Linked DNA regions of Homo sapiens. The protein of the gene in region 3 interacts with the protein of the main gene of each other region in a biochemical or structural test. Each region holds a gene or a part of one and is shown on either strand. Other genes may lie near its edges.

The links. The genes of interacting proteins can lie anywhere in the genome.
Region 1: the proteins of ACAT1 (region 3) and PDP1 form a complex in vitro, tested with the Homo sapiens proteins (one study listed by BioGRID).
Region 2: of the proteins of ACAT1 (region 3) and GLDC, one has a biochemical effect on the other in vitro, tested with the Homo sapiens proteins (one study listed by BioGRID).

Annotation. Positions count from the first base shown.
Region 1 is NC_000008.11:93,919,891-93,926,568, reverse strand, and holds the end of PDP1 (pyruvate dehyrogenase phosphatase catalytic subunit 1), read right to left. Parts: intron 5,343-6,678; exon of another isoform or gene 5,206-5,342; intron 4,554-5,205; coding exon of another isoform or gene 4,510-4,553; coding exon 2,896-4,509; 3' UTR 501-2,895; downstream 1-500. UniProt on the Homo sapiens protein: Mitochondrial enzyme that catalyzes the dephosphorylation and concomitant reactivation of the alpha subunit of the E1 component of the pyruvate dehydrogenase complex (PDC), thereby stimulating the conversion of pyruvate into acetyl-CoA.
Region 2 is NC_000009.12:6,642,730-6,650,725, forward strand, and holds the start of GLDC (glycine dehydrogenase (decarboxylating), mitochondrial precursor), read right to left. Parts: upstream 3,001-7,996; 5' UTR 2,771-3,000; coding exon 2,516-2,770; intron 1,964-2,515; coding exon 1,885-1,963; intron 1-1,884. UniProt on the Homo sapiens protein: The glycine cleavage system catalyzes the degradation of glycine.
Region 3 is NC_000011.10:108,124,567-108,131,598, reverse strand, and holds part of ACAT1 (acetyl-CoA acetyltransferase, mitochondrial isoform b precursor), read right to left. Parts: intron 3,714-7,032; exon of another isoform or gene 3,620-3,713; intron 2,957-3,619; exon of another isoform or gene 2,740-2,956; intron 2,497-2,739; exon of another isoform or gene 2,398-2,496; intron 1-2,397. UniProt on the Homo sapiens protein: This is one of the enzymes that catalyzes the last step of the mitochondrial beta-oxidation pathway, an aerobic process breaking down fatty acids into acetyl-CoA.

The sequences.
Region 1 (6,678 bases), on a different chromosome or scaffold from region 3:
ATATCTTTGTTGGGGTGTTACCAAATGTTACATCGCAAATTTTAAATCTGTGCATTTTGTTTAAATTATACCTCAATTTTGGCCAGGCATGGTGGCTCACACCTGTAATCCAAACACTTTGGGAGGCCGAGGCGGGTGGATCACAAGGTCAGGAGTTGAAGACCAGCCTGGCCAACATGGTGAAACCCCATCTCTACTAAAAATACAAAAATTAGCCAGGTGTGGTGGCCCGCACCTGTAGTCCCAGCTACTTGGGAGGCTGAGGCAGAAGAACTGCTTGAACCCAGGAGGCAGAGGCTGCAGTAAGATGAGATCGCACCACTGCACTCCAGCCTGGGTGACAGAGCGAGACTCCATCTCAAAAAAAAAAGAAAAAAAATTTTACCTCAATTTTTACAAATTTGAAGTACTATGTATCTACTGGGTCCTAAAATTAAATATAATCTACCACACATAGGAAGCATCTAATCAATCTTGTTATTAAAAACCAACACAGGACATTCAGAAAGCAGATATGAAGCTTTAATTCACCATAGGCATTTCTCCAACCATTCTGTACATTAAACTTTCATGTCTTCACACATATACATCTTTTATAAGACAGTTTTCTTAGCAATATGGTACTCTGTACCATACCAACATTCCATTTAACTAGTTAAGGGTGTATTATATAACATGAACCACTGATTAAATATAAATACAGAAGTTGAATACATAGGTTAGAAAGTTTAAATTTTAAAAAAATTTAAGAAAGGCTAAATACCATGAAAGTTTACATGTATTCTTTAATTCTAGACACCGTACAACAGTGACAACCAATTACAATAAAATCACAATTGCTTTTAGATGACAGTACTTTCAGATTTCTAATACCCAATTACTTTCATTTCCACAATGTCAACTTCATGCTGCATTTTCATTTCTATAGAGCAGACAAGCTTCCAGACTGCAGACCAAGTTTCTTGTGTAATAATACTACTATCTTGATCATGACCACAGGAAACCAATTTTATATTCCCTGTACTATAGAGATGAGACATTATTTGGTGTATATGAAACTCTTCAGTGGTGGTGTTCAAGAATATTCAAATAGTAGCTGAAAATAGGGTTTGCTAGAGCAGTCCACATATTTCATTAAAAGAAAAATGCCCAGTCAAAACATTTAGAAATAAATATATAGTACAGCCTTTCCCTCTCCCAAATACTACCCAGGAAAAAAGTTCCAAGCTGACTTAAAAAAAAAAAAACACACAAATAAAAACAAAAACACCTCAAAAAATAAACATTATATGATATTCTGAGCAGCAATCTTCCTGAGTCTATTTTCAATTGAAACAAATTCTGCAGCCAATAGTACACTGATTCAGTATCCACAGTCCAGAAGGAGTTCTTGAACATCTAGTTCATATCCCCAAAAAATGTGAAAAGACTCCTAAACACCCAAGTTATTACACAATGGGAAGCTGATATTGGCTTGTATTAAAATCCAGGTGAATATCAAACATAATCACAGCCTTAACAGTGATGCTAGAATAAGTGATGACAATATGTGCACAGCTGTATACAGATCACTATTAAACACAGGAACAAAATGCCACTTGATGCATATCAAAAAGCCAATTTGAATATATTTATTTCATTTACATTGATACAGTATTAGAAGGGACTGAATATAATTATGGAGACTGCTGCAAACATTTGATGCCACTAAGTATTCTATTAAGCATCAGGCATGCACAGTAGTTACCTTTTAAAGTTTCTCATGTATATATCTTAACACATATATCTTAAGCTACAATATGTTTAAAGCATTTAGTCATTTTAAACCCAAATATTTTAATTGACCTATGTCTAAATGGAGAAAAACAGAAACTTCCTCCTGTCTCAATACCCGATGGCAATATTAAACCTTACTCCCCAAATTGATATTTAAACTTATTTATGTCATCTTTAAAATTCCAAAAATAATGAAAAGTCTTATCATTACTAAATAAGAAGTACGATTCCCCGGCAGCAGTCTACCCACCACACACTTACGGCATGCCAAGCCTTTGGGGATTACATAAGAGTGATGTGCTGGTGGCTACAGATGACAATAATTGAAGAGATCAGTCTCTTCTTTTTATTCTGGATCTCCTTATTTTAAACTAAAGCTTTTCATTAATACAAATAAAAAAATCTTTTTTTCTTTCTTTAACTTCAATAGAAGAGTAGATAAAACTAAAAACCCTTATTGTCTCCAAGTGTGTGGCAAAATAGAAAATCTTTCAATTACATTAGGAAATCGGGTGGATAACGGAGTATAGTTATTCCACTTAAGAAGCATTCCAGTCAAATAATCACAAAAACAAATTCAGATTGCTTGGATCTTGGTCATTTATGGCTTGAAGAACTGGATTTGAAAACCACTTTAGGCTAAAATAAATGTATATGAATAATGCATAGACTGTGTATCTAGAAAATCATGCAATAAATATATGTTCTCATGTACACTGGAATCTCAGTGAAGAAAGGTGTGAACAGTACTGTTTCTTCACTTTAACCAAGAGACTACACACAGCAAGATACTTGCTTTTGGCCTATTCAAGATCTTATTTGCCAGGTCATCCTAATTTTCTCAGGTTGGTAAAAGAAGCTAATGTTTCAAGACACCTGTGATAAAGAAGTGACTTGCTTCAAGTGCAGGTGCCATGAAATCTGAGCTAGGCAGGACCAGACTCTCCTGACCCTGCCACCCTGCTGCAAAGTCAATTTGGAGTACCTGACTAGCTAGAGTATCAAAAGGGTAAATGCTTAGAATGACCAACTGGAAATGTTTATTATAGTAGTATCTTTTTAAAAAATCTGCCCTTTAAATGTATATCATTTGAGAATTGCCAGTGAAAGAGCCACTCACTATTCTTGGTTTTGATACGCCCCTACAACATGAGAATTGAACTGAACTACAATGATTGTAATGTCATCTCTGTACATTCGAGCAAGCTCTTCAGGAAGACTAAGCATTTTAGAGAGGCGCTCATGATCAACAGTCCCAAACTCGTTGTTGCCCACAGCGTGGCGAATGAGATGGGTTGCTGCGTTCTGATCCTCAAATACCGAGGACATTTTGGTTCTCCTTTCTGTTAAAAGGCCATGCATCTGTCCCAGAGTCACCTTGTAGCCACCAACAGCTATTGGCTGTTGGTGATGCATGCCAGTTAGGTACTCACCCACAATCCTAACCACATCCTGCCTATGCATAGTCTCCCACAACCCATCAGTAGCCAACACCAGAAACTTATCCTGTGGCCTTAATCGGTGGTAAGTTACCTCTGGCTCAGCAGTGAGATAAGGAGGTGTGTGATAATTAGGAGGAATAAACTTGGTATATTCATTGTCATTCAACTGGTCTGGGCCAGATTCTATCACTCTCTTTTGAAGGTCAATGCTCCATTTGAACTTTACATCTCCAAATGCCCTAAATGGCATCAGCAAGCCAAGCAGCCGATCCTGTTTCACGACACTCTTGGCCTCACTCTTTGGATGTTCCAATTTCAGCCGTTCTAGTTCTCTTTCATTTTGAGCATTGTGGTCATTAGACAGCGTGACTGCTGACCATGAGCCGTCCTCTTCCTGCACACCCAGCATGGCTCTGCTATCGCCAGTATTGGCCACATGAAGGTCAACACCATCCACATGGGCCACACAAGCAGTGGCTCCAGAAAATGCCACTCGAAGCACCAGGTAGTTGAGAAAAGAATTAGGATCACCAACTTGCGCCTCCAAGGAGATGTCATTATCAAGCCTCTTGAAGGCATTAATTAGAGCCTCCTTAACATCAATATCAGTCGACTCACCAGTGTTGAGGTCTATAAGCTCTTGCCAGTAAGTCCTCAAGCTGTTAAAGTACAATTTGGATGCCTCCTTACTAAAGTAATCATTGGGGTGCTTGTGCCACTGGAGAATGGGTAGCAGTGCCCGGCCGCTCTCCACTGCATTTTCAATCTCTAGCAAAGTCTCATGGGGTAACAAAGAGACAGCAATATAATAAAAGAGTCTTTCACTGACTGCCTGGGAACAAGCACAACCTGCATGGCCATCAAAAACCCCCAAAAGCATCCCTCTGGTCTGCAAGCAGGTTGCTGCACTTCTCCGGTCCTCAATGGGTGCATTTGCAGGCAGCTGATTGCTGTCAAATCCAAGGATAGAACTGACATTTTTGCCGTCAAATTCTGGCACTTTGAAACTGTATTCATTAGCTTTAAGGATGCTATTGACTTGTGGAGGTGTGAGGTAAAATTTCTGTGGTGTGGAAGCATATCTCCTTCCTTGGGTGTACTGCCACCAGTTCTCCTTTGGCCTGCAAAAGGTAGCATATGCTGGATGAGGTGTGTATCTCAGTCGACTCTGAGGAATGTACGATGAGGAACAACAGAGATGTTTGTGGTGGCAGTAACATGCAGTGCCATAGATCCTGCTCAGTTCACAGTTACGGATGAGAGGAAAAAACAGTTGAGTTGGTGCTGGCATGGCATCAGAGAACAGTGGCAGGCTGGAACTTCTGACTGGGATTCCTAGACAGCAAATTAGACAGATGTACACAAAGGAAAGAGTTACATTTCAGGATACTTAATCTAGCTTTGCCTTTATAACAAATATTAAGCAAGTCAATCTACATGTTAAGCCTTTGCTAGAAGGTACTACATTTTATACACACATCATGTACTATTTCTACAGGGTATATTCTGGCAGGCACAACTCCCAATCATTCGTGGAACCACGACTGAACTCCTGGCTCCTATACTCAAACTTCAATTTTCTCTTTTCTTTGTCGTCCTTTGTGCAGTACAAACTGTGCAGAATGTACAACAGATTTGGCTGGGGAAAGCTGAGGAGATGAAGGTTATATAACATTATGCAGTAGCCGTCTACCTGACCAATCATCCTTCTCCCTCCCTATTCTTAAAAAATGCCTTGAAATCTCCCATTTTACACAGGGACTTCTTCCATTTATGAAGACCCTTTACATAGACCTGTGGTCAATTTTTGGCATGATTACACATGGCTATGACCAAAAATGTTAAGAGGCAGCCAAACATATGTGTATTTATGAATTACGTGTACATCATATACATATATGACTACAGTAATATGCATTGTAACATATATAGAAAAATTTCTACATAATTAAATAAAAAAAGAAATTCCAGTATTTCTCTCCTGTACCCCAGTAGATGGTCTTGCAAAACTTGCTTCTCTAGTCCACTGTGGCAATTTGCCAGGCTAACGGGCATAGGTCTGCCACCAACTCCCAAATAATCTTGGAAAAGTCAGCTCACATCTTTGAGTCTCACTCTTCTAACCTGTAAAGGAACATCAACAGAGCAGATGCTATCTAAGGCTCTTCTAGGATTCATGCCTTTATGCTTATGGAAGTGAGGTTTTTAAATAAAATTCAGGTTTCATTTATTCACTGTTGAATTCTACCGTGCCCTTCATGATTAAAAAAAAAAAAAAAGTTTAAGTATTGCAGTAGCTCTAAAGCTTTGTTAGTAACATAAATGGTTTCAGTCCTAGAACTTAATTTACCTACTAACAATGTTCCCTGCTTAGCAGCTATAAGGAAAACCCATAGAAGTATTTTCATCTACTATGGATCCAAAGTAGAATTAACCCCTAGAAAAATGTTTTCTTGGATATGGTAATCACTCTGATTTGATCATTACACAATGTCTACCAATATATACATGCACTGAAACATCACATTGTACCCCATAAATATATAATATTATGTGTCAATTGTAAATTAAAAATAAATTTTAAAAGACCAAAAATGTTTTCTCTCACATTAAAAAAAAAAAAAAAAGGTATTTACTTGCTCCAGGGAAGCAGTATAGTCAAATAATAGTCTAAGGTTTGGATTGAAAAGGTACAGCAATATAATTACAAACTTAAAAAAAATCCTATCACTCACTATGTGCGCTGAAAATAATTTCTGGGCATTTATTTGGGAAATTTAATGAATATATCATTAATCTAGATAATTTGGGCAAGAAAAAAAATCCCTCTTCTTCCTCAATAACATATATTTTCCCTGAATTCTTGAGATACTGCTTCAAAATAGTCATTTGTACTATAAAGAAACACTTTGGAAATACTTTAAATAAACAAATGCAATAAACAAAAAGGAACACAGAAAATAAAACCATCTGAGTTAATAGCAACTATTCCTTCCCACGGCTAAACAAATATCATAGCATGTGTCAGCCATATATTATTTTCATGTACCTTTTTTGAAGAATAATTTGAGAAAAAGTAATAAATTGGGGTAGAGGGAAGCAAAGAAAACTAAACACTGAATAATCACTGATTCTTGTTTGTTTCTGTAATAAGCACTGCATAAGCCAGCCACACAGATTCTCTTCTGCAAGTAGTAGAAAGTACCATCATTTTAACTGCACTATCTAAGAAGGGATTTGTTTACGAAAATGAAGACAAGATCAGGCAATAGAAAGTAATGGCTAAAATTTTGGAAATAAGAATCCGTAACTAAAAAAGCATTCTGAAATGCACTAATGAAAAACAGAAATTCCAGAAAAACGGGAATCCATCAGGAGTAACCATTTAAATAAAAGAAATTCAAACTGAATACCTGAAAGTCATCCAGAGGTTAAGTGTACATGACTGAGCCAGAAGATG
Region 2 (7,996 bases), on a different chromosome or scaffold from region 3:
TAGAGTATATATATTATAAAAATAGCTAACCTAAACATTCCCTGACTTTGAAAGTCTCAGGAAGGGATTCACTTGTTCAAATATTCACCTAAAATACCCTGCTTTAAAGATACACAACTCTTCACTCTTCACACATCAAATGAATTAGGATTCTGATTTTTTCTTTTCTTCCTTTCTCTTTTTTTTTTAGACAGGGTCTCACTCTGTTACTCAGGTGGAAGTGCAGTGGAGCCATCTTGGCTCGCTGCAACCTCCACTGCCCAGCTCAAGTGTTTCTGCCACATTAGCCTCCGGAGTAGCTGGGATTACAGGCGCACACCACCACACCCGGCTAATTTTTGTATTTTTTGTAGAGATGGGGTCTCGCAATATTGCCCAAACTGGTCTCAAACTGCTGGCCTCAAGCGATCCACCTGCCTAGACCTCCCAAAATGCTGAGATTATAGGCATTTGCCACCGTGCCCAGCCAGGATTCTGATTTTCTAAAATGGAAATAGATAAGGCTTCCCTCCGACCATCCCTAAATCTCAATTAGTTCAATTCAGCAAAACATGCAGGTTTTCAACGACCATCAGATTTGAAACCAACAAAGGCAGCAGCCCTCAGCATAGCCTGAGCAGCCAACCTGAAGCAGATAGGCTCCATACCTCAAATGTCCACCTTCAAACAAAATAAAGCTTGCCATCTGCACACTAGATCCTTTCTATCATAGCAACAAAATAAAACAGCTGCTCTCTCTTCATTTGACTCTAGAAGAAAAAGAGATAAGTATCTCCATGATTGAAAGTGAGATAACCAGATGAGATTTTTTTTAAGAGCTCAGCCTGTGCCCTTGACTTATGGATTGTCCCCCCACCCCATGGAAGTCAAATACCCACATAAAAATACCCCTGAAAAGCAATCTTGGACCATTAAAAATATTTTAAACCTAAAATAAAATTCTAAGAAAGTCTATGACTAAACTGACCTTTCTTAAACAAATGTAAATCTTATTTGTGTGTTTTTCTAGAAAAACCATTCGGGGTAGGGCACAGTGACTCGTGCCTGTAATCCCAGCATTTTGGGAGGCCGAGGCAGACGGATTGCCTGAGGTCAGGAGTTCGACACCAGCCTGGCCAACATGAAGAAACCCTGTCTCTAATAAAAATATAAAAATGAGCCTGGTGTGGTGGTGCGCCCCTGTAATCCCAGCTAGTCAAGAGGCTGAGGCAGGAGAATTGCTTGAACCAGGGAGGCGGAGGTTGCAGTGAGCCGAGATCAAGCCACAGCACTCCAGCCTGGGCGACAGAGATTCTGTCTCAAAAAAAAAAAAAAAAAAAAACGAAAAAAAAAAGAAAAGAAAAGAAAAACCATTCGGACTCGAAAAGTACTGCTGTCTTTCAGTTGGTAAATAATAAAATTTGGACGTGAGGTAAGAAAACAATTGGAAGATACTGCGATCTAAAGAAGCCTGGGGGAGGGAGGCGAGATGTCTGGTCACTTCCCCAGTTGCACGACCTTAGGCAATTCCTAGATCCTTTGAGTCTATCCGGGTCTGCGCAGGTAATGACACCTCTCAACCCAAAGTATGAGAGCACCCTGGCCGGTGAGAGGGTGCCTGGGAAGTGGGGAATCTGCTACAAAACGCAGGGGAAGCTCGCGGGGGCCCTAGGATAAAGACCAAGAACCGCACAACACCGACTCTCTCCTAACACAAAACTGTCTGCTCCGAGAACCAAATATCCCACCTTCCCGCGGCTCCGGAGGTACCCGCCACTGTTTTATTTTAATCCACACATTCCCAGTCCTGAGCAATCCTTACCCCAGAGCTCGATTTTCAGGGAACCACAAAAGACAAATAGGCCAGAATAATCTAAGTCCAAGGGAGCCCTCCCGGCCACTTACAAACAGGGTCTTCCATTTTCAAGGGTCTTTTCAAACGGATGTTGGCAGGGACCGTCTTCTCGATCAATTCATCAATGCTCTAAAATTAAAACGCAAGGCAGAGGAAAGTGCCTCTGAGTTAAAAGAGTCACCTCTGTGTTTTGCGACTACAAAGCCTTGTGGGAACCTCATTGAAATCGCCTAATTAGGGTTCTTTTTAAAAGAAAAGGAAAACTCTGAGCAAGCCAGAATGATTTGGAGGAAAGAAAATCGTGAAGTGGGGTGGAGATTCCGCCACTCGGGGTTGGATTTCAGTTGCAACCGGAGCTAACCGGTAAGCCCACTCTTAATCAGGGGGTCTTCCTCCTCTTGCAAAGTTTAGGTCCATCCACAGGGCCACTTGGGCTGGGGGTGGTTTAAAAATGTACACTTTTGAGGCACGAAGACTGGGTGCAGGAGAAAGTAAGCTGTTAAGAAGTAAGAAGGCACGAGGACCAAAGGCACGAATTTGCTTCCACGCCACGGCCCGGGACCCAGGGTGCGGGGACCACGCGGAGCGCAGCAGAGCTCAGGGTAGGAGCCGGGAGGCCGCGCAGGCAGAGCCCGGGCAGGGCGGAGGGGAGGCCGCGGAGGGCCGGGTGGAGGTCCTTACCGCCAGCCCCAAGGTCTGCAGCATCTCTCTCTGGTCTTTGTCCCCAGGGCCGATGTGCCTCCGAGCGAAGTCGTCGTGTCTGGGCAGAAGGCGCTCCAGGAGGCGCGAGGCCCCAGCCGCGGCGCTGTCCCCGCCGCCACTGCTGCTGTCCCGGCTCCGCGGCGCCCAGCACGGCCCCGATCCCCCAGCCAGGCGGCGGCCGCCCCCGACCCCGCGGCCCAGGCGCAGCCCCCACGCCCTGGCACAGGACTGCATGGCCGCGGCCACCGTCCCCTGCCCCGGCCCGCAAGGGTCAGCCGCGCTCTTGGCCCCTCTCCTGGCCTCGGTCCCCCGGGTGGCGGCTGCGCCCGGCCTGGAGCCCCTTTCGCTGGACAGTCGGCCGGACAGATGGATGGACGCTCGCGGGCAATGAATGGGCGCTGCGCTCAACCAAGACACTCGCGCAAAGTTGTGGCTCCACCCAAGGCACCTGCTCCGCACACTTTAAGCGGCGCCCTGGAGGCGGGAGGTGGGTTGGGGCCAGGAAGCCCTTGGCCAATGAAAGTAGACAGAGGGGGAGGGGGCGGAACAGTTCCCGCCCCCGCCCCCTCTTCCTACCCTCTTCCCAGCCCTTCCGTGGAGTCCCGCTTCCCCTGGACCGGAGGCTGCCATCTCCAGTCCTACCCACTCCGACGCTGGCTGGTGCCGGGGGCCGGGACGCTCCGTACGCCGCCCGCCAGGGTGTGGAGCCGCACTGGGGCAAGATCAGGTGGGACAGCCCAAAGACTCCGGGCCAAGTTCCTGGGGGACTCGGCGGAGATGGAAGATGATTCTCGAAGCTCTCCATTTCCTTAATTTTGAGGTATCTTTCTCTGTCACATTTCATCTCAGGGAAATTAATATGGGCAGATGGCGGTTCTTTTATCTTTGCGGGAGCGTGATAAAGTTACTCAACCTCTCAGAGCTTCAGTTTTCTCATCTCAACAGAGCTGGATGGGATTTTAAAAAGAGATTATATGTACATGGAAAGCACTTGAACAGTAGATTTGAACACCCTCTCTATATTTCTTTTCTTTTCTTTCTTCCTTCTTTCTCCTCCTCCTCCTCCTCCTCCTTCTTCTCACTCTCTCTCTTTCTCTCTCTTCCCCCCCACCACATGTAACGCTATGGCTCACGCCTGTAATCGCAACACTTTCGGAAACCGACGCGGTAGGATAGCTTGAGCCCAGGAGTTCGAGACCAGCTTGGGCAGCATTGTGAAACCCTGTCTCTACAAAAAATACAAAAATTAGTGGGGCGTGGTTGCGTGCTTCTGAAGTCCCAGCTACTCTGGAGGCTGAGGTGGGAGGATTGCTTGAGTCAGGGAGTTTCAGGCTGCAGTGAGATGTGATCGCACCACTGCACTCCAGCGTGGGCCACAGAACGAGACTCAGGAAAAAAAAAAAAAAAAGAACTGTGTGTGTGTGTGTATATGTTTTTTTAAATATATGTACTGTATATACATATACGTGTGTGTGTAAAACTACAAAGGATATTTTGTTGTTGTTTTTGAGACGGAATCTCGCTCTGTCGCCCTGGCTGGAGTGCAGTGGCGCGATCTTGGCTCACTGCAACCTCCACCTCCCGGGTTCAAGCGATTGTCCTGCCTCAGGCTCCTGAGTAGCTGGGACTACAGGCACGTGCCACCACGGCCGGCCATTTTTTATTTTTATTTTTAGTAGAGACGGGGTTTCACCGTTTTAGGCAGGATGGTCTCGATCTCCTGACCTCGTGATCCGTCATTACAGGCGTGAGCCACTGCGCCCAGCAAAAGTACAAAGGATATTAAGATAGACATTGTTCACTGTCGTCTTACTTTGAAAGTTAGCCATCTAGAACTGGATTTTTTGTAAATGTACCATCTCCAGCTGTCTCATGACAGTTTTAGCAAGAGAATGAACTTTTAAAATTCCAGTTGTTCTAATATGGGGAAGAGAGGACAGAAGTAATCAGAACATTACTTGTACTTAGACTAGGGGAAAATAAAACCTGTTCTCTTTCTTGCTTATCTGCTAAGTTTCCTCCTCCAATCACCCTTAACAGATTCTGGGCTCCGTACCCAGGAGGCACAGACTATCCAGAGAGGCAGGAAAGTAGAGATGGAAAAGAGGGCAGGAAAATACACCACAAAGAACAGTAGGTAAAATGTCTGTATGGCAGACGGAGGCGGGTGGTGAGCTAGGACGGCTGGGCTGAATGTCTCCGAAAAGTTTTTCGGCCATTTGGAATTGAAATTACAACCTTCATAAAAGTTGGGAGATCTCCTCAGTGCCAGATGGTGGGGGTTGTGGGGAAGGATTGGAGGGAGGAGGTAATCTGCATTTATTCCTATTCCTGTCTATGTTGTTTCTATGTATCAGAGGGACTGGAAGCCAGGGAACAATAATTCCCAGATCCCTTTGGCTCCGTGGTGATGGATGTTATTTGCCTTCTGCCAAAAAAAAACATGTATATATACACACATATATGTATATGAGAATTGGGGCCGGGTGCGGTGGCTCACTCCTGTAATCCCAGCACTTTGGGAGGCCGAGGCGGGCAGGTCACTTGAGGACAGGAGTTCAAGACCAGCTTGGCCAAGATGGCGAAACTCAATCTCTACTACAAATATGAAAAAAAATTTAGCCAAGTTTGGTGGGCGTGCTTGTAGTCCTAGCTACTCAGGAGGCTAAGGCATGAGAATCACTTGAACCTGGGAAACAGAGGTTGCAGTGAGCGGAGAGCGCACCACTGCACTCCAACCTGGGTGATAGAGCAAGACTCTGCCTAAAAAAAAAAAAAGAGAGAGAGAGAGAATTGGGAAATGGAACAAAGGTAAAAACTGTTTTCTTATTTTCTGACTGCAGCAGACAGATGCATGGACCACTGCAGACATGACATGCTTCCTTACCAGCACCCCATCTTGAGGTAGCTGGGAAGCTGTATCCACCAATGGGAATGTCCTGCAGTTCCCCAGCAGGAATTTCTGTGTACTAGACTAGAGCTTCAGTGGTTGACCTGAAGATAGCGTTGGTATTCCCTGGTTTTTGCTCTTCCAGTTCTTCCAGTGGTTTTGTATGCACCCATTCCTGACATTTAATTCTCCTCTGCTTGAAATGCATTGAGTGTTTTTTGTTTATTTGTCTGTGTGATGTTGTGAAATACATATCTGGTATTCATCCCATTTCCTGGCCTGCAACTCCTAAAGTCTTGGGAATCTCCAGACTCCTGCCTTTTTGTATGCTAATGTGACTAACAGCTTCAGAATAGGGCTGGTCACTGGAAAGACAAAGACATAATGGGAGTTGAGACTTTCAGCCCCACCCTCAACTTCTCAGTAGGGCAGAGGGTCAATGATCAATGCTTAATCAATCATGCCTTCCTAATAAAGCCTCTATAAAAACCCAAGAGCCGGACGTGGTGGCTCATGCCTGTAATCCCAGCACTTTGGGAGGCCAAGGCTGGCGGATCACTTGACGTCAGGAGATTGAGACCAGCCTGGCCAACAGGGTGAAATCCCATCTCTACTAAAAATACAAAAATTGGCCGGGCGCGGTGGCTCACGCCTGTAATCCCAACACTTTGGGAGGCCAAGGTGGGCGGATCACAAGGTCAGGAGATCGAGACCATCCTGGCTAACACCGTGAAACCCCATCTCTACTAAAAATACAAAAAATTAGCCGGGCGTGGTGGCGGGCACCTGTAGTCCCAGCTACTCAAGAGGCTGAGTCAGGAGAATCACTTGAATCCGGGAGGTGGAGGTTGCAGTGAGCCAAGATCATGCCACTGCACTCCAGCCTGGGCAACAGAGGAAGACTCGGTCTCAAAAAAAAAACAAAAATAACACACACACAAAAACCCAAGAGGAGAGGTTTCAGAGAGCTTCTGGATAGCTGAATACACACAAAGTGGCACATGGGGAGAGGCCATGGAAGGTCCTCACCCCTTCTCCCATACCTACCTCGCCCTGCGCATCTCTTCATCTGTGTTACTTGTAATATCCTTTATAAAAAATCAGTAGACATAAGTGTTTCCCTGAGTTCTGTGAGCTATTCTATCAAATTAATCAAACCCAAAGAAGGGATCATGGAAACCCCAGCTTCAAGCTGATCCGTCAGAAGTTCTGGAGGCCTAGAATTGCAACTGATGTCTTGGGGACTGAGCCCTCAACCCTTGGGATCTGGCGGTATCCCTAGATAGAGTGTCAGAATTGAAGTGGAGTGCACCCAGCTGGTGTCTGCCTCAGAACCGACTGCTTGCTTGTTGGTGGGGAGAAATCCCCATATATTTCGGGATCATGGAAGTCATCTTCTTCTTTCTGTTTTTCCATTGAGACAGAGCCTTGGTCTGTTGCCCAGGCTGGAGTGTAGTGGTGCGATCTCAGCTCACTGTGACCTCGACCTCACAGTTTCAAGCAATTCTCCTGCCTCAGCCTCCAGAGTAGCAGGGACTACAGGCATATGCCACCACACGCACTAATTTTTGTGTTTTTTTTTTTTAGTAGAGATGGAGTTTCCCCATGTTGGCCAGGCTGGTCTCAAACTCCTGACCTCAAGTGATCCGCCCACCCTGGCCTCCAAAAGTGTTGGGATTACAGGCATGAGCCACCACGCCCAGCCAGATCATGGAAATCTTCTGTGTTGATTGTTGTAGTGTGGTGTGAGACCAGAGGAAGCACAGTTATAGTGCTTTTTCAAAACAGTTAGTTTTCCTGAATAAACCCAAACAAAGGCTATAATGGAAGCCAAAAGCAGATTGAGGAGGGCTTAATGTTTGGGTGAAAAAGGCAAGAGATTCCTGAGAGACACATTCACTCCCTGCCATTGTATGAGCTTTCAGGGAGTTTTTTCCTTTGCCTCCCCCTTTTCTTTTTTTTTTGAGTTTTGCTCTTGTTGCCCAGGCTGGAGTGCAATGTCCCGATCTCCGCCTCCCAGGTTCAAGCGATTCTTCTGCCTCAGCCTCCCGAGTAGCTGGGATTACAGGCATGCGTCACCACGCCCAGCTAATTTTTTCATATTTTTAGTAGAGACGGGGTTTCTCCATGTTGGTCAGGCTGGTCTCAAACTCCTGACTTCAGGTGATCCGCCCGTCTCAGCCTCCCAAAGTGCTGGGATTACAGGCGTGAGCCACCGCACCTGGCCTGCCTCCACTTTTGTTCCTCCCCTGCCCGTTCTGCTCTAGCACAAATATTTTGTCCTGAGCCAGCTTCCACCTCTTATTCAGAAGTCTCATCAGAATACTTTTCTTTTTTTTTTGAGACAGAGTCTCACTCTGCTGCCCAGGCTGGAGTGCAATGGCGCAGTCTCAGCTCACTGTAACATCCGCCTCCCGGGTTCAAACAATTCTCTTGCCTCAGCCTCCCGAGTAGCTGGGATTATAGGCACCCGCCACCATGCCCAGCTACTGTTTGTATTTTTAGTAGAGATGGAGTTTCACCATGTTGGCCAGGCTGGTCTCGAACTCCTAACCTTGTGGTCGGCCTGC
Region 3 (7,032 bases):
GGACGGATCACCTGAGGTCAGGAGTTCAAGACCAGCCTGGACAACGTGGTGAGACCCAGTCTCTACTAAAAATACAAAAGTTAGCCCAGCATTGTGGCACATGCCTATAATCCCAGCTACTTCAGAGGCTGAGGCAGGAGAATAGCTTGAACCCAGGAGGCGGAGGTTGCAGTGAGCCAAGATTCTGGGACTACACTCCAGCCTTGGCAACAAAGCAAGACTGTCTAAAAAAAAAAAAAAAAAATTCCAAGTCTTTCTTAAATATAGCTTTCTAAAATGTAGTTTTGAGTTAAAGCTAGGTTCTAAATTATTTAGTCTTAGAATCTAACAAGATATTTTCATTTTTTAAGATTGTTTTCAAGTAAAACTTGCTGTTTCTCCCTATCCACTTCCAACAATTGTCTGATTTATATGAGGCAAACACATCTCATATAAATATGACCTATAATAGCAGATAAATTATTTCTTAAAAAAGGAAAGAGTAAACATCTTGCCCCTACTACTTCTCAGTTCTTTCCACACTTCTTAGGAACAAATGTCAACAGTAGGCTGGGCAAGTGGCTCACGCCTGTAATCCCAACACTTTGGAAGGCTGCGGTGGGCATATCACTGGAGGTCAGGAGTTAGAGATCAGCCTGGCCAACTTGGCGAAAAAACCCCGTCTCTACTAAAAATACAAAAATTAGCCAGGCGTGGTAGCGGGCACCTGTAATCCCAGCCACTCAGGAGGATGAGGCAGAAGAATTGCTTGAACCCAGGAGGCGGAGGTTGCAGTGAGCCAAGATCACGCCACTGCACTCCAGCCTGGGAGACAAGAGTGAAACTCCATAATAAATAGATTAATTAATTAATTCTGACAACGCAGGACACAATTCAGAGACCTACTGATCTGAAATTAGACTATCAGTAGCTGGGCGCAGTGGCTCATGCCTGTAATCCCAGCACTTTGGAGGCCGAGGCGGGTGGATCATGAGGACAGGAGTTCAAGACCAGCCTGACCAACATGGTCAAACCCCGTCTCTACTAGAAATATAAAAGTTAGCTGGGTGTGGTGGTCCATGCATGTAAGCCCAGCTACTCAGGAGTCTGAGGCAGGAGAATCACTTGAACCTGGGAGGCAGAGCTTGCAGTGAGCCAAGATCACGCCACTGTACTCCAGCCTGGGCGACAGAGCGAGTCTCAAAAAATGATAATAAATTTAAAAAATAATAATTTAAAAACTTACAAAAAAAAAAGTTCCTACTTGTAGTAAACATGCCGGTCACTGCCTCTCCAAACACATGTCTTTCTCAAAGGACAACCCTAAGTACTTACAAGGTGACTCCCCTGCCTCTGGCCAGAGCTGATGGGATCAAGAATGGAATGGACTCACCCAAGCTAGGACCCAGAGAGACTGGGTCAGTTGGATGACGGTGGGGACTGGGACTGAAAAGTCAAAAGGGGCTGGAGCTGACCAGCCAATGCCACAGAAAAGCAGCGGTTAGAACAAAGAGAAAAGCCATGAATACACTGAGAAGCAAAAGAATGCAACATATATACTCAGAGACAGGAGAAATAGACCATGGCACACCACAAGAGGCAAAAGATGGCTTTGGTTAGTGATTTTCTAGCTTGGGTTCTGGCAGGGTCAGTTGCAATTTATTTTGTTTGAAAATTTTCATATATAAAAATAAAAAATAAACCAGAACTCCTGGACTCAAGCAATCCTCCTGCCTCAGCCTCCCAAGTATCTGCGACTACAGGCACACATCCCTGTACCCAGCCAGCTGCACTTTATTTCCTATCCTTGGATGTCCTAGTGCTTGCCCATTGTATCTCTTCAAAAAGTCCCCTTTCTGAAGACTCCTTAAAGAACTAAAACTAGAACTACCATTTGATCCAGCAATTCCACTACTGGGTATCTACCCAGAGGAAAAGAAGTCATTATATGAAGGCCAGGCACAGTGGCTCATGCCTTTAATCCCAGCACTTTAGGAGGCTGAGGCGGGCGGATAATGAGGTCGGGAGTTCAAGACCAGCCTGGCCAACATGGTGAAACCCCAACTCTACTAAAAATACAAAAATTAGCTGGACGTGGTGGCACACGTCTGTAATCCCAGCTACTCGGGAAGCTGAAGCAGGAGAATCGCTTGAACCCAGGAGGCAGAAGTTGCAGTGAGCCGAGATCACGCCACTGCATTCCAGCCTGGGCGACAGAGCAAGACTCCATCTCAAAAAAAAAAGTCGTTACACGAAAAAGACACTTGCACACGCATGTTCATAGCAGCACAATTTGCAATTGCAAAAATATGGAACCAGCCCAAATGCCCATCAATCAACAAGTGGATAAAGCAAATGTGGTATATATACCATGGAATACTACTCAGCCGTAACAAGGAATGAAATAATGGCACTCACTGCAACCTGGATGGAATTGGAGACTATTATTCTAAGTGAAGTAACTCAGGAATGGAAACACCAAACAGCTTATGTTCTCACTCATAAGTGGGAGCTGCGCTATGAGGACACAAAGGCATAAGAATGATACAGTGGACTTTGGGGACTCAGGGGAAAGGCGGGGGGTGGGGGTGAGGAATAAAAGACTACACATTGGTTTACAGTGTATACTGCTCAGGTGATGGGTGCACCAAAATATCAGATACCACCAATAAAGAACTTATTCATATAATCCAACACCACCTGTTCCCAAAAGCCTATTGAAATAAAAATTAAATTTTAAAAGTCCCCTTTCTACTTAGCTAGTTTGTTCCTTGTTTACTAAGCCACTTCTCTTCTTTCAAGCTTCTGGTCCAGTTTAATGGAATCTTCCCTGGTTCTCTCCACTTTACTCTGGATCCCATTTCCAGTTGCCTTTTCAAAGATGGCACAGTTATCCCTTCCTTCTCCTCTACATCATTCACCCCTTTTACTTCTGGATAATTCCATAAGCATACAAACAGGATCTGATTCCCCCCACCTAAAAAACAAAGTAAAAACAAATAAATGTCTCTTGACCCACATTCCCGAGCTTTCACCTCATTTCTTTTTGAAAAAAGGCTGGAGTGCAGTGGTGCGATCTCAGCTCACTGCAACCTCTGCCTCCCAGGTTCAAGCAATTCTCCTGCCTCAGCCTCCCGAGTACCTGGGACTACAGGCATGCGCCACCACGCCCGGCTAATTTTTGTATTTTTAGTAGAGACAGGGTTTCACCACGTTGGCCAGGCTGATTTTGAACTCCTGACCTCAGGTGATCCGCCTGCCTCGGCCTCCCAAAGTGCTGGGATTACAGGCATGAGCCACTGCACATGGCCTCACCTTACTTTAGTTCTCTTTGGCAAGAAAGGTTCTCCAGGTTACCTACAGTGTCTATTTGCTTGTCCTCACCTCCTCTTTACAGTTCAACCCACTCAGATCAGGATTTTATTTCTGCCAGTTTACCACTGTTGGTTCTGAGCAACATCAGCAATGTCTGTGTAGCAAAATCCAACTCGCTATAATTGTCTCACTTAACCTTTTAACACATCAGCAAGACTGGGCTCACCTTTCTTTGAGAAATATGCTGAGCAGTTAAGAGCCTGGGCTTACCAGCTCAGTATTCTTTGTTTGTTTGTTTTGTAGAGACAGAGTCTCACTATCTTACCAAGCTGGTCTCAAACTCCTGGGCTCAAGCGATCCTCCTGCGTTGGCCTTCCAAAGTGCTGGGATTACAGGCGTGAGCCACTGTGCCCTGCAAGCTGAGTATTTTTGAGCAAGTTACTTAGACACACTTACCTTGGTTTTCTTAAATACCCTCCACAGGCTGTTATGAGAATAAAATGAGGTAATATGTATAATCCACTGCAGAAACCCTTCCTTGTCTTGGCTTCCATTACAAACGTGGACTCCTTCCTACCTCATTAGTCATATTTACCTCAGTCTCCTTTACTATCTCATCTTCCCCTTCCAACCTCCAAGTGCTGAATGTCCCAGGGCTTTGTTCCAGGCCTCTTTTAATTTAACTTCACTATATCCTTAGTTATATCCAGTCCCATGGCTTTAAAAAGCATTTATGAGGCCGGGCACAGTGGCTCACGCCTGTAATCCCAGCACTTTGGGAGGCCAAGGCAGGCAGATCACGAGGTCGGGAGATAGAGACCATCCTGGCTAACACGGTGAAACCCCATATCTACTAAAAATACAAAAACAAAATTAGCCAGGCGTGGTGGCGGGCACCTGTAGCCCTAGCTATTTGGGAGGCTGAGGTGGGAGAATGGTGTGAACCCGGGAAGTGGAGCTTGCAGTAAGCCAAGATCACGCCACTGCACTCCAGCCTGGGTGACAGAGTGAGACTCTGTCTCAAAAAAAAAAAAAAAAGGCTTCTATGTGCTGATGATTTTCCAAATTTCTATCTCCAACCCTGACCTTTCAACTGACCACCAGACTCACACCCAAGCGCCAACCTGACAGCTGCAGGTGAATGTCCAAATCATAGCTCTCAATTTCCAACCCTAGAAAACCTGTTTGTGGCCAGGTGCAGTGGCTCACCCCTGTAATCCCAGCAGTTTGGGAGGCCGAGGGGGGCGGATCACGAGGTCAGGAGTTCCAGACCAGCCTGGCCAACATGCTGAAACCCCGTCTCTACCAAAAATACAAAAAAATAAAAATAAAATAAAATAAAAAAATAACAGGGCATGGTGGCACGCGCCTGTAATCCCAGCTACTCCAGAGGCTAAGGCAAGAGAACTGCTTAAACCCGGGAGGTGGAGGTTGCAGTGAGCTGAGATTGCGCCATTGCACTCCAGCCTGGGTGACAGAGAAGACTCCATCTCAAAAAAAAAAAAAAAAAAAAGAAAACCTGTTTGTTGCCGGTATTCTCAGGTGCTCAAGCCAAAATCATCCTTCATCCTTCCCTTTATTGCAATCCCTAAAATCCAGATACTGTGAACAGCGTCCAAAACATAACTAAATTCGTCCACTCTGCCTCATGTCTACTGCTGCCACCTAGTCCAAGCCACCATCTCTTGTTCCTATTAATGGCCTTCTACCTAGTTCCCTGCCTCCCCTGACACCTCTCTACAGTCCCTCCAGCTTTGAAAAATGTAAATCAGATCATATCACTCTACTGCTTAAAATAATTTAACAGCTTTTCATTGCTCTTGGAATTATATACAAATTCTTTACCTCATCCTCCAAGAACCTGCATGATCTGGCTCTAGGTTTTCTCTCCAAATTTACATCACTCTTGCTCTGTGCCAGCCACTGGCATCTCTTTGTTCTAAACCCTATCCCGATACCTCAAGGTCTCTGCAGTGTGCCTCTGCCAGTAATAGTCTCCTCAGGCCGGGCCTAGTGGCTCATGCCTATAATCCCAGCCCTTTGGGAGGCCGAGGCAGGTGGATCACTTGAGATTAGAAGTTTGAGACCAGCCTGGCCAACATGGTGAAACCCCGTGTCTACTAAAAATACAAAAATTAGCCAGGTGTGGGGGTGGGCACCTGTAGTCCCAGCTACTTGGGAGGTTGAGGTGGGAGAATCGCTTGAATCCAGGAGGCAGAAGTTTCAGTGAGCCGAGATCGCGCCGCTGCCCTCTAGCCTGTGCAACAGAGTGTGATCCTGTCTCCAAAAAAATCAAAAACAAAACAAAACAAAAAGTCTTCCCAGCTCTCCATGGCTGGCTCATTTTTATTCTTCATGTCTTTTCTTTTTTTTTTTTTTTAGACGGAGTCTCACTTTGTCACCCAGACTGGAGTGCAGTGGCGCGATCTCGGCTCACTGCAAGCTCCGCCTCCCAGGTTCACGCCATTCTCCTGCCTCAGCCTTCCAGGTAGCTGGGACTACAAGCGCCCGCCACCACGCCTGGCTAATTTTCTGCATTTTTATAGAGACAGGGTTTCACCTTGTTAGCCAGGATAGTCTCGATCTCCTGACCTGGTGATCTGCCCGCCTCAGCCTCCCAAAGTGCTGGGATTACAGGCGTGAGCCACCACACCCAGCCTATTCTTCATGTCTTTTCTAATGACACATTCCCAGAGTGGTCCACCCTAACTACTCTATTTAAAGTTACCCTCTACTTTTTCCTCTCTTTTATATGAATATCTTTATTTCCTTCAAAGCACCTCTTACACTGTAAGTATGTGGTTCACATCTTTGTTTTATTATCCACCCCTCCAACATAATACAGGCTTCCTGATGGCGGGATGGTGTCTCTTGCTCACTGTTACATCCCTATGACTTAGCACAGTGCCTAGCGCTCCTTCAATATCAGAAACGAATGACAAAATTATAGTATGGTCAGGACACTGAACCATATAGTGTATAATAATACATGCTGAATGAACACAACCCATTAAGTTTTATCTACATAACACAATTATCTTTCAGGGAGGGCTCAGCCATGCCAGGCAGAGGTCAGCACTCCTATCTCAGCTTCCACAACGCCCGTGCACATTCTAATTGTTCCAGAATATATAATTTTGTAACCCTCAGGTGGCTTTTCTCCTCACTAGACTGTGAATTCCAAGAAGAGACTGATTTTATTTATTTTCTATCCCAGTGATGGCAGCAGACACAAAACAAATATTTGAAGACAGTCTGAAAGTTACCAATAACTCAGAGAAACAAAATTTCAGCTACAGTAAATGTTATGAAACCAGCAAAATTGATCATGAACTAGAGAGTAACTGACGGCCTACTTTACATGGGAGAGTCAAAAAAGGCCTTCTAGCAATGTTAATGGAGCTGAGAAATGAATGTTAAAGAGTCATCCTTGGAAAGATCCAGGAAAAGAACATTTGAGGCATCAGGAACACGTAGGACTAAGGCCACGAATTCGGAACAAAATTGGCACACATACTAAGTATAGAAAGAAGGGTCCTGTGGCAAAAGCAGAGTGAGCACGGCAGCAGCTGAGGCCACAGAACTAAGTAGGGCCCAGCAGATCATAAGGGTCTAGATTCTGGCCTATGGGCAATGACAAGCCACTGAAAGCTTTTATGTTATAAAAAGACCACTCTGGCTGCGGGGGAACTGAGTGTACTAGGGTAAGATTAGAAAAAGGGAAGGGGGCCAGGTGTG